Linked DNA regions of Homo sapiens. The protein of the gene in region 2 purifies or fractionates together with the protein of the main gene of each other region. This does not show direct contact. Each region holds a gene or a part of one and is shown on either strand. Other genes may lie near its edges.

Region 1 (3,568 bases), on a different chromosome or scaffold from region 2:
TCGTCCTGGCTGACACAGAGCATGGTGGTCATCTGCTCTTCATGTCCAGCAGGCTCAGAAAGAACTCGGAGTTCCCCTCGCACCCTTGGGCCAAGCTTTTCAAGTCCGAGTGCCAGGACTGGATGAGCTGGGGTTTGTGTGTCTGCTGGCGGCACAGTGGGTGTGCACAAGACCACCATTTGGGTATCTAACAAACACAGGCTCACAAAAGGGATTTTGGCATATCTGACAAAGCTTTTTGTCTGAGAGTTGGATTGAGCTTCCTTTCAACTTCATCTGCAAGAAGAAACCAAGACTGAGAATGCTGTCATGTGTTAAGTATATTTAAAGTGGCTACGTTCTAGTTTTGCAGAGTTGACATGCATTACTCCATGGGTTATTATTATGATGAGGATTTCTTTAATATCAACTTCTTGAAATGAAATGCTAAAGGTGTAAATAAAACCATCCTTAGTAACTGGACAAGGAAGAAAGTTACACAATTGCTTTTCTTATTTCACAAAAGTAATTGTTGCTTGTCTGGCTGAGGCATTTCTACTTAAGATCCTCTCTCCAACATTCTCTGGCTCTGATCATTTCAAGCAAGGCCTGTTAGAAAGTCATGAATGTTAATGCTGAATGAGACCATATAATAGTGTAACTCCAGGGTTCTCTCATTTGCAAATAAGAAAAGTAAAGCACAAACAAATAAGGGATGTAGTCAAAGTTACACAGCTAACAAGTGGCATATTCCTGGTTGGTCCTGGGAGACACCCTTCCGTTTCCTTAGAGGTAACTGGTGAAACTGAGTCTTAATGCCATCGGTCCCTGTCTGATCAACAGGACTTGAGTTCTGAAAGTTATAAAGTTTTTCTACACAATTCACTCGTGTCAACCGAGGCAGGTTGGTCTATTGGCAGGATCAAGCAGCAACTTAGCGATTCATCCTGCACTCCTTAGTTGCATCAGTCATTCCACAAACACGGATTAGATGCCTTCGACATGGCAGGCTTAGCCCTACAGACACTGAGATAAAGAAATGAAGTTCCCTGTCCTCAAAGAACCCAAACTCTAATAGTAGCGGGTAACAGCTGTGAATGCGAACACCAAGTAAAAGTGGGTGAAAGAGAAGGTGATTACTCTACTTAAGAGGTATGAGATGGCTTCACCAAGGGAAAAAAATAAAGGCTAAATTTTGACTGGGCATTTGCTGGGGACAAAGAAAAAGGTAAGAATATCTCAGGCAGTGGGTACAGCATTTACAAAAGCAACAAAGTATGAAATACCAAATCACATCTGGAAGGTTGTGCTAAAGCCAGGACATGAGCTGGGAAGCAGAGAGAGGTGGGGAGGGATATGCTGAAGGAGGTGGGACTGCATCTTCCAGGACAGGGAGCGTCAGCAAAGGCTTCTAAGTGGGAGGGGAACACGTCGGATACCCGCTCTGGAAAGAAGACTCTGCCAGCCATGTGGAATTTAGGCCCACAAGAAAGAAGTCTCCCGAAGGTGAGTACAGTGTGGGGACGAAGAATGTGGGGTTCTCAACTGGCCTGGGAGGCAGCTCTGGGCACGCCCATTTCCTGAGCATGCGACTGCTCTCTGCCTCAATTTCCTCTCCTGTGAAATGGAGATGCTGACAGTAAATACTGCATAAAACTGTCATGATGACAAAATGCAAGCATGACGTAAAATGCCTAGGTCAGTGCCTGGCACACAGCACATGCTGGGTAAGCGCCTGATATTCTGATGCTGCTCTCCTCCCTACAGACTCTCTTAATCACCAGCGTCCAAAAGGGGAGAAAAACTACACCGATGTTACACCTACCAGCCCAGCCTCTGCCTCTGCTCACACAGACCTCAGTTTCTATGAGTAGGATCAGATATTGATGTGTTGTAGTCATAGAGACAGAAAAAAGAAAAACCAACAAAGACTATTTTTCCATCAGTAAAATCTACCTTCAGTACAATGTTGACTGACCAGGAAGCAGCTCGTGGGGGCCAGCACTTACCTTATCGTAGGTGTAGATTAAGTTTTCGGACCTGGCCAGGCCGAGAGCCACCTGCATGGTCCTCCTGGCATGGATGCTGTCCCTCATGGCCCCCATCAGGAATGGGCAGAGGAGCTGCACTGACCAGGTGTCAGGCAGCATCTGCAGCACCTGGGCTGCATCAAATTCGGTGGCGTGGCGGTTCAGCAGGTCCACGGCAGCCACGGCCAGCTCGTGGGCAGTGGGGCCAGCATGCAGGTAGATGGCCAGCAGCGTGTGAAAGAGTTGCTGGCGGTGGGGTGGGTCTCGGCCCTCGGAGCACCACAGGCAGTAGTCCTCGGCCGCTGCAAAGTCCTGCAGCTCGTGCACCAGGATATGCAGCGCCTTCTCATGCTCGCCCAGCTTCCCGTGCAGGATGGCGCTCTCCATGGGCAGGCCAGCTCCCTGCAGCCTCTCTGCAAGACAGAACCTGCAGCTCAGAAAGAAAGGGGCTCGCCGGCCACCCGCCCAGCGACTGGCCTCCTTGCTGCTCTGGGCTTCAGGAGGGGAAAAGTCAACCTGGCTCCCTCACAATGCCAAATGCTGCCACCCAGATGACTGAGGGTAGGTTTTCTTGCATTTTCACACTGTGAATCCAGGTGTTAGTAAAACAGAAGGCAGACTCTACTCAAAAGTATAGCTGGACCACAGAATAATTCCTTTCTCTAGTGTTCAGAGGATGAAAAGAACAAATGAACCACAACTACAGAAAGGCCCAGTGGCTCAGTGAGTATCAGCCTTCCAGGTCTCCAGTCACTCCATCATCACTCCTATCCTCCCAGGACAGTATCTTTTGACTAAAATAGAAGGACACTATGTCCCCTAAAATCCTAACAAACACTACTTCCCCCCAAAAGATGTGCTGAACCCCTTTATTCCAATGTAAAGTAGATTTCATTGAATGGAATATGAGCTCATATTATTCAAAATCCATCTCTACATTACTCAACAGAAGGTTGCCAATAATAGGATTTTTTTGTTTGTTTCACCTGCAATTAAGCTTCCAGGTCCTAAGGAAAATGACATAACCCAAAGCGTCATTCCTGACCAAGGCCCCACCCTTAGTGGGCTGTGTCTCACGGGCAAAGTCACCTTGCTTCCTACCCCATCTGTAACCCCATCTGTAACTTCCCACCCAGCCCGTCTGGAACTGCACCAGCCCTTATCTGCATTGCAATTAAACTCTGAGTCTCTAAGGACCAGAAGTGAGGCTCATCTGTTTTTACATCCTCAAGAGATTATAAGATCTCTTCCTACTGTGAAGAAATATTATGAGGACAACCCCTAGTTTAGGGTCAAGACTAATAATCAAATTATAGGCATTTGAATCTTGGCTGTCGCTTAGGCCTGAAGAACATGGCAGACATTGCTACCTGTGTAGCCAAGGGCTGGCCCTGCAAGGTACATCCCTTATAGCACTAGACACAGAAGCCACAATACGCAACGCCTTCATCCTCACAGTGGAAGGCCAACAAATAATTACTAAGTGGCTGCCATAGTTAAGACCCTGGGTGAGGTACAAAGACAGTTAAGAAAAGATCACTGTGGTGATTTACACTTCC
Region 2 (3,657 bases):
CAGCAGACTCTGAAGGAGGAACCTGTTGAGGCATTCCTGGAATCAGACTGGAAGTACCTGGCAGGAATTCCTGCTTCAAGGCCTCCTTCTCAAGGGGGTTTGTGTCCTCCTGCATGAATATGGTCTTCTTCGTGGAAACAGTTTCAGAAGTCAGTTCCTAAATAGAAAACAAAAAAGCCGAAAACTTATTATTAGAGACTAAAGCACACAAGATGTATGGCAAAAACACAGTATTGCTATTTTCATGCCAGAGACTAAGAACCAAACTGAAATAGCCCTGCTTTAACAAAGCATAAAACCAAACCTATAGGATCAAGTTGATTCACCAATAATTTAACTGCCTGCCAGAACAAAACCCATCATCTTTTCATGGAAAACAACACAATCTAGACTCCCTATAAAACGTCCTCTACAATGTCCAGAACACAAGTAATAATTACCAGAAGTAAAAAAGTAGGAAAATGTGAACCATAATCTAGAGGAAAAGTATTCAACAGAAAAAGGCCCCAGAATGGGCTGGGCGTGGTGGCTTATGCCTGTAATCCCAGCACTTTGGGAGGCCGAGGTGGGTGGGTCATGAGGTCAGGAGTTTGAGACCAGCCTGGCCAACATGCTGAAACCCCGTCTCTACTAAAAATAAAAAAATTAGCTGGGTGTGGTGGCGGGCGCCTGTAATCCCAGCTACTTGGGAGGCTGAGGCAGGAGAATCACTTGAACCGGGGAGGCAGAGGTTGCAGTGAGCCAAGATCTTGCCACTGCACTCCAGCTTGGGTGACAAAGTGAGACTCCGTCTCAAAAAAAAAAAAAAAAAAAAAAGAGAAAGAAAAAGGTCCCAAAATGACAAAGATGGTGGAATTAACAGACAAGGACAGCTATTATAAATATTTTCAAAAATCCAAGGTAGAAAATGGACATAATGTAAGAGTTAAGATGTATCAGCAGAGAAAATGAGAATTATATTTAAAAAACTAAATAGAAATTCTATAAATGAAAAGTACAATATCTGAAGTGAAAAAATCCACAGAATCCCCAGATAGGATATAGGGCATTGCAGAAGAAATGGTCAGTAAACATGAAGGTTTATCAGTAGAAATTATCCAAACTGAACCACACAGGAAAAAAACAAACAAGCTTCAGTGACCTATGAGACAATATTGAGCAGTCTAACATCCATGTCCCTGGCTGAGGTAGGAATCCTTGGAGCTTAGGCTCTACTGATCCCCTCCACTTCAATCTTTGCCTGGAAGTTGTACAGGTCCATTCTACAATGAGCCCCGTGGAGTTCATCCTTGTCCACATGGTCTCTGAGACCCTTCTACACTTCAAACTATTGAGTCTATGCAGCAAATATCTATTCATTCTATAAAAATACATTTCTAAAACATTTGTATAGTTTAGATCTTTATAAACAATAGTTTTCTTCTGACTCAGAAACAAAATTATGGTTTACTTAAAGCTGCATCTGCTTAATGAAGAGACATCAATACCAAGGATAACCTCTGCCTGACTTAAATTCTACCTCCTCTATGGATACTTTTTGGTTCAGATAATTGGGTATGATCCCTACCATACATAGCATTCTGTTTCTGTTCCTCTTTTGATACATCCACTAGATAAGCACTATTCAATCTGGGATACTTAAAGACTTGCTAACCTGTATCCAAGTCATGATGTTTTTTTGTTTTTTTTTAAAGCGATCAAGGAAAAAACTGCAAAGCTTTGAGTATATGCATATCAGTTCATCAGGTAAACTAGCAGCCCTGCTGAAATTTCATGCAACCCATCCTGGGCCAGTTTGAAATTGGTTTTCCCAGCACTAGTCACACAAAAGGTGAAGGTGACCAATAGCAAGGAGCAATTTGTAATCCACCTTGAATCAATCAGAAACCAGAACTTGGAATCTTGTCTTTTTGATACACCTGTGCCTCTTTGTCCTTTATTTAGCCTTGTCAAAGTTTGCTTGGAGAGTAACTCACATCTTAATGTTGTGGCTCTCTCTTGCCAGGTAAACTATAAATTTGCTTCATTTTAGATCACTCTTGGGTTCTCTTTATTTCCTTCTAACATAGGGAATCAATTTCCATAATCATAACCTACACATGAACTCTTTTCTAAAACTGAGAACTTGCACATAGTCTAGACATTGTGCTTGTTGTCATTTCCCATCTTCCCTTACAACTGCCTACATCACACACTTGGCAAAAGAATGACATACCATTTACTTATCTAAATCTTGTTAAAAAATATTGCTGCAGGATGCAAAACCTCAGTGAAACACAAAAAGACAATTCAAAATATTGATGTGAACCGAGAAATTTTCCTTAATAAAGCTACCATAAAACTAGGGTGAAGTTTTGGGAGTCTTCTTTATATATTTCTTATTGCCTTATATATTTCTATTTCTATTAACAGTAAAGCATGGTGTTAGAAATGGATTAGAGGTGCACAGCAAGGTGATGACAAATTTTGCTGAATGATCCTCACCTCTCCCATCTCCAAACAATTGCTTAAAGAAGGAATTCTTCCTGAGGGAGAGTTCCTTTAGACTATTGTCAAACAATAGAATGAAACTATCTTTTGATTTAATTTATTTACAAGACATCCAGGCTTAAAAAAGCAAATCTATTCTTTATGAGGACATTGAGTATATTAGTATAAATGTAAATAAGCTTAATATTTTCATGTCTTCAAATTGGCTTGGAAGCTAACAAATGCTGGTGAATTGTAATGGACTGCATTAAAGACTTTAATGCACAGAGTATAGTCATAGCTAAAAAGATGTCATATATCAAACCCAACATTGCAATTGAGACGACTCTCTATCCAGGTATCTACCACTTTGTAGAAAGCATAGAATAGCATAAGGCGTTTTTCAGGAGATTGTGAAAAAAACTGTGGGAGGTAAAAGATAGGCTTGTCAGACTGACGAATGCAGAGTTGTCTTCGGCTATTCCAGCTTAATAACTTACATCTAATATTATAACATCACAGAGGAGGCATCTGAAGTTTCACAGAAAAGTAAATAGAATATAATAAACCAAATACTAAATACTAAGTTAAATATCTGAAGTATGCACTGATAACAATCATATTTGGTTTCTGAAAAATACTGAATACTACTTGAAAAGGGCTCAAAGGATCTTATATGAAAAAATATTTGTTCCAAGTGAATAGATTTTTTAAAAATCAGATTTTTTGGCTGGGCGTGGTGGCTCACGCCTGTAATCCCAGCACTTTGGGAGGCCGAGGTGGGCAGATCATGAGGTCAGGAGATCAAGACCATCCTGGTTAACATGGTAAAACCCTGTCTCTACTAAAAAAAAAAAAAAAAAATTAGCCGGGCGTGGTGGCATGTGCCTGTAGTCCCAGATACTCGGGAGGCTGAGACAGGAGAATCACTTGAACCCAGGAGGCAGAGGCTGTAGTGAGACGAGATCGCTCCACTGTGCTCCAGCCTGGGCAACAGAGCGAGACTCCATCTCAAAAAAAAAAAAAAAAAAAAAAAAAACAGATTTTTTTTAAAACCAGTAACACCAGAGTATTTCCTAAAATCTAAGACAAATTTGTCTTTTAACATCTCCTTTTTTCATTAACAAAGATTGTCAATAACATTGGTTTATATGCAAATATGTGAATACTTGCACATATATTGAAAAT
Region 3 (3,132 bases), on a different chromosome or scaffold from region 2:
CCCAGTTTGTCAGAGCAAATTTGATAGAAAAACCATATAGAAAAACATATCTTCAGGGTTAATATTAAAACATACTATATTTTAAAGTATATAAACACCAAATTTTTCTTCATTCTGTGAAAAATGAAGAGTGAGTAAGCAAAACAATGACAAGATATACATTTTAAGCCTTGTACACAAATAGAAAAGCAATATTCATTTTATAAAACAAATCTAGAATATAAAGGGACTTGTCAAGTTGGAAAACTTACTGAATCAAGAAGGTGGCATTCAGTAGTGAGACTTTTATTATCAAATAGTTCTGAAAAACAACAAAAAAAAACTTTTTAAAGAATATTCTCACATTCGAGGGCTGTTAGAAATGGACAAAGCCATGAAAAATATGAAAAGTTCCACATATCAAATGCTAAGACAAAAATATAGACCCCTATGCTATAATGTTTTTTGAAAGTAGTTAAATTCTTATCCTTAACTTTGGTATAAAAGCAGACTTCTGTAAACAAATCTCATGCTTGTAACATTAAAGGTACCCAGAAAATGCTGATGAAGAACAGCTGGAGGACATTAAATGTCTGGCCGAGGTTAAAACCTTTTGTTTTACCATAGGCCCCAGTTAGACCAGCTACAGACTAACTGATGAAAATGGCAGGTAAAACTGGCACACATTATAACAAAAATATAGGAGCCATTTCCTATTGCAGAACCATCACAACAATATAGGTAGAACTAGGCAGTAGGGAAGAAAAATAGGATATTTTGAAGAAAGACTTGGGGATATGTGTTGAAAAGGACAACTAAAAAAAAAGCCCAGGCTGGCCAATGTGGTGAAACTCTGTCTCTACTAAAAATAAAAAAATTAGCTAGGCGCGGTGGTACATGTGTAGGAGAATCGCCTCAACCTGGGAGGTGGAGGTTGCAGTGAGCTGAGATCACACGACTACACTCCAGCCTGGGCAACAGAGTGAGACTCCATCTCAAAAAAAAAAAAAATCTTGAGGGAATTGTTCTAATTCAGGGTCTTCACTAACAATGAAGGATCCTCAATAGTTAGATCTAATGTAAAATGGACCTTATAGGATAATTTATACCTTAATCCAAGTTCATTTCTTTAATAAAGGCTCGTTTAAATATATTTTAAATATCTCACCTGACTGAGAAATTTTAGTTTCCCCTTCTTCTAAGATGCTATTTTGTGAAGCTGTATTTTTTTCAGGGCTACTCATCAAAACATCCTGTGATGTAATTGAAGAATTCAGTTCCATTCCTTCCACAACATCTGAAATTCCTTCTTTTTTGTTAGTATTAATATCATCTGCTACTCCACCAGCAAGAAGAGGCAAACTCATTCTCTCACTGGATAAACAATCCACCTTCAAGTCTGTCTTATTTACAACCTGGAAGTAAAAATGGCATTATATTTAATTATCAATTTAATTACTTGGAACAAATTTTAAAAGTCTTGTTGCTATTAAATACAAGAAAAACAGAAGGATGACATCCCGGACACAGTCTTAAGAACATTATAAATCCTACTATCCTGCTTCTTCAACAATTAGTTCAGATAATATTATAGAAATAGTATGATTGAAGGCAAGTTTCTCAGCAAGTACCTATACTCTAGCTCAGGGACTGGCAAACATTTTCTGTAAAAGATCAAATAGTAAATATTTTAGGTTTGTGAGTCACAGGGTCTCTGTCATAAGTACTCAACTCTACCACTGTATTGCAAAAGCAGCCAGATAGAATACATAAACAAATGTGTGGCTATTACAATAAAATATGATTTGTAAAAATAGGGGCCAAAGTTTGCTGATTTCTGCTCTAGTTCACTGGTTCCATATTCATTCTGATATGAGTTGAAGAATACAAAATGACACTATGGTTTTAAACAACCCAAATGTCATTGAAACAAGAACTACAATTCTACATGACTGATTTAGATTTCCAACGGAAATTCTGGGGATGCTTTACAAAGTTACTTTCTATAATGATATAAACATATGACATACTGGGCTATCTAACCACACTGGAATTGTACTTACATGATTTTCTTCAATTAAATCTGGTAATCCAGGACACTGAGCATCTTCTATGCTGCTCCTAAAGAAGAAAAAAAGCAGCATTACACTCATAAACATATTGTTATTGTTTCACTTGTATTTTGAGTCTTTCCTTTAATGATGGCAATTAGTTTAGGGAATGGATCAAACATGGAGCCTGGTGCAAGATCAGGCGTGATCCAGATAGATTAGTTTTGGACTATAGCTACTGCAGGATGGCCTTACAAACTAAATGCATTCTTCCCCAGAAAGCTCACAAGTCTGTTACCATGGTGGTCAGTCAGGGTCAGGTGGCTCTACCAGCAATACTCTGAATCTCAGCCAAATCCAGAGCTATATATTAAAGAAAAGTCAAAAAGAAGGTGACTTCTGGAGACAGAAGCAACAATTCAATTATTGTCTAGCTGGAGTTAGCTACATTTACTCGTTACTTGTTAATCCAGGTACCTGCTAAGAAACTTGACTTCAATCATACTATTTCTATAATTTTATCCGAAAGTTCAAAAAGCGGAACAGGAGTTACAATGTTCTTAAGTCTGCTGCTTGTTAACAAGTAAATGTAGCTAACTCCAGCTAGACAATAATTGAGTTAGAATACAAGGTATTCTAATCCTGAAGTTACTAGCTTGTATCTTATTAGAAATATCTGTTTTGGCCAGGCGCCTTGGCTCACGCCTGTAATCCCAGCACTTGGGAGGCAGCGGCGGGTGGATCACGAGGTCAGGAGATTGAGACCATCCTGGCTAACATGGTGAAACCCCGTCTCTACTAAAAATACAAAAAATTAGCTGGGCGTGGTGACATGCGCCTGTAGTCCCAGCTACTTGGGAGGCTGAGGCAGGAGAATCACTTGAACCTGGGAGGCGGAGGTTGCAGTGAGCCGAGGTAGTGCCACTGCACTCCAGCCTCAGCAACAGAGCGACACTCCGTCTCAAAAAAAAAAAAAAAATTTATCTCCACTTCTTTCAAGTTACTTTTTAAAAAAGATATGCTCTATTTTTCTAGTGTCCAGCTTTACTTTGCCTTTATTACACAAAGTTGCTTATTTGTATGATGCCCTTTGAGGATGTTT

Evidence for each region.
Region 1: the proteins of DYDC2 (region 2) and TGFBRAP1 purify together in Homo sapiens (affinity purification with mass spectrometry; one large-scale study listed by BioGRID and IntAct). This does not show direct contact.
Region 3: the proteins of DYDC2 (region 2) and DLGAP5 purify together in Homo sapiens (affinity purification with mass spectrometry; one large-scale study listed by BioGRID and IntAct). This does not show direct contact.

The regions. Positions count from the first base shown.
Region 1 is NC_000002.12:105,267,284-105,270,851, forward strand, and holds part of TGFBRAP1 (transforming growth factor-beta receptor-associated protein 1), read right to left. Parts: intron 2,423-3,568; coding exon 1,989-2,422; intron 277-1,988; coding exon 100-276; 3' UTR 1-99. UniProt on the Homo sapiens protein: Plays a role in the TGF-beta/activin signaling pathway. It associates with inactive heteromeric TGF-beta and activin receptor complexes, mainly through the type II receptor, and is released upon activation of signaling.
Region 2 is NC_000010.11:80,363,188-80,366,844, reverse strand, and holds part of DYDC2 (DPY30 domain-containing protein 2), read right to left. Parts: intron 158-3,657; coding exon 1-157.
Region 3 is NC_000014.9:55,150,548-55,153,679, forward strand, and holds part of DLGAP5 (disks large-associated protein 5), read right to left. Parts: intron 2,101-3,132; coding exon 2,043-2,100; intron 1,395-2,042; coding exon 1,148-1,394; intron 302-1,147; coding exon 252-301; intron 1-251. UniProt on the Homo sapiens protein: Potential cell cycle regulator that may play a role in carcinogenesis of cancer cells. Mitotic phosphoprotein regulated by the ubiquitin-proteasome pathway.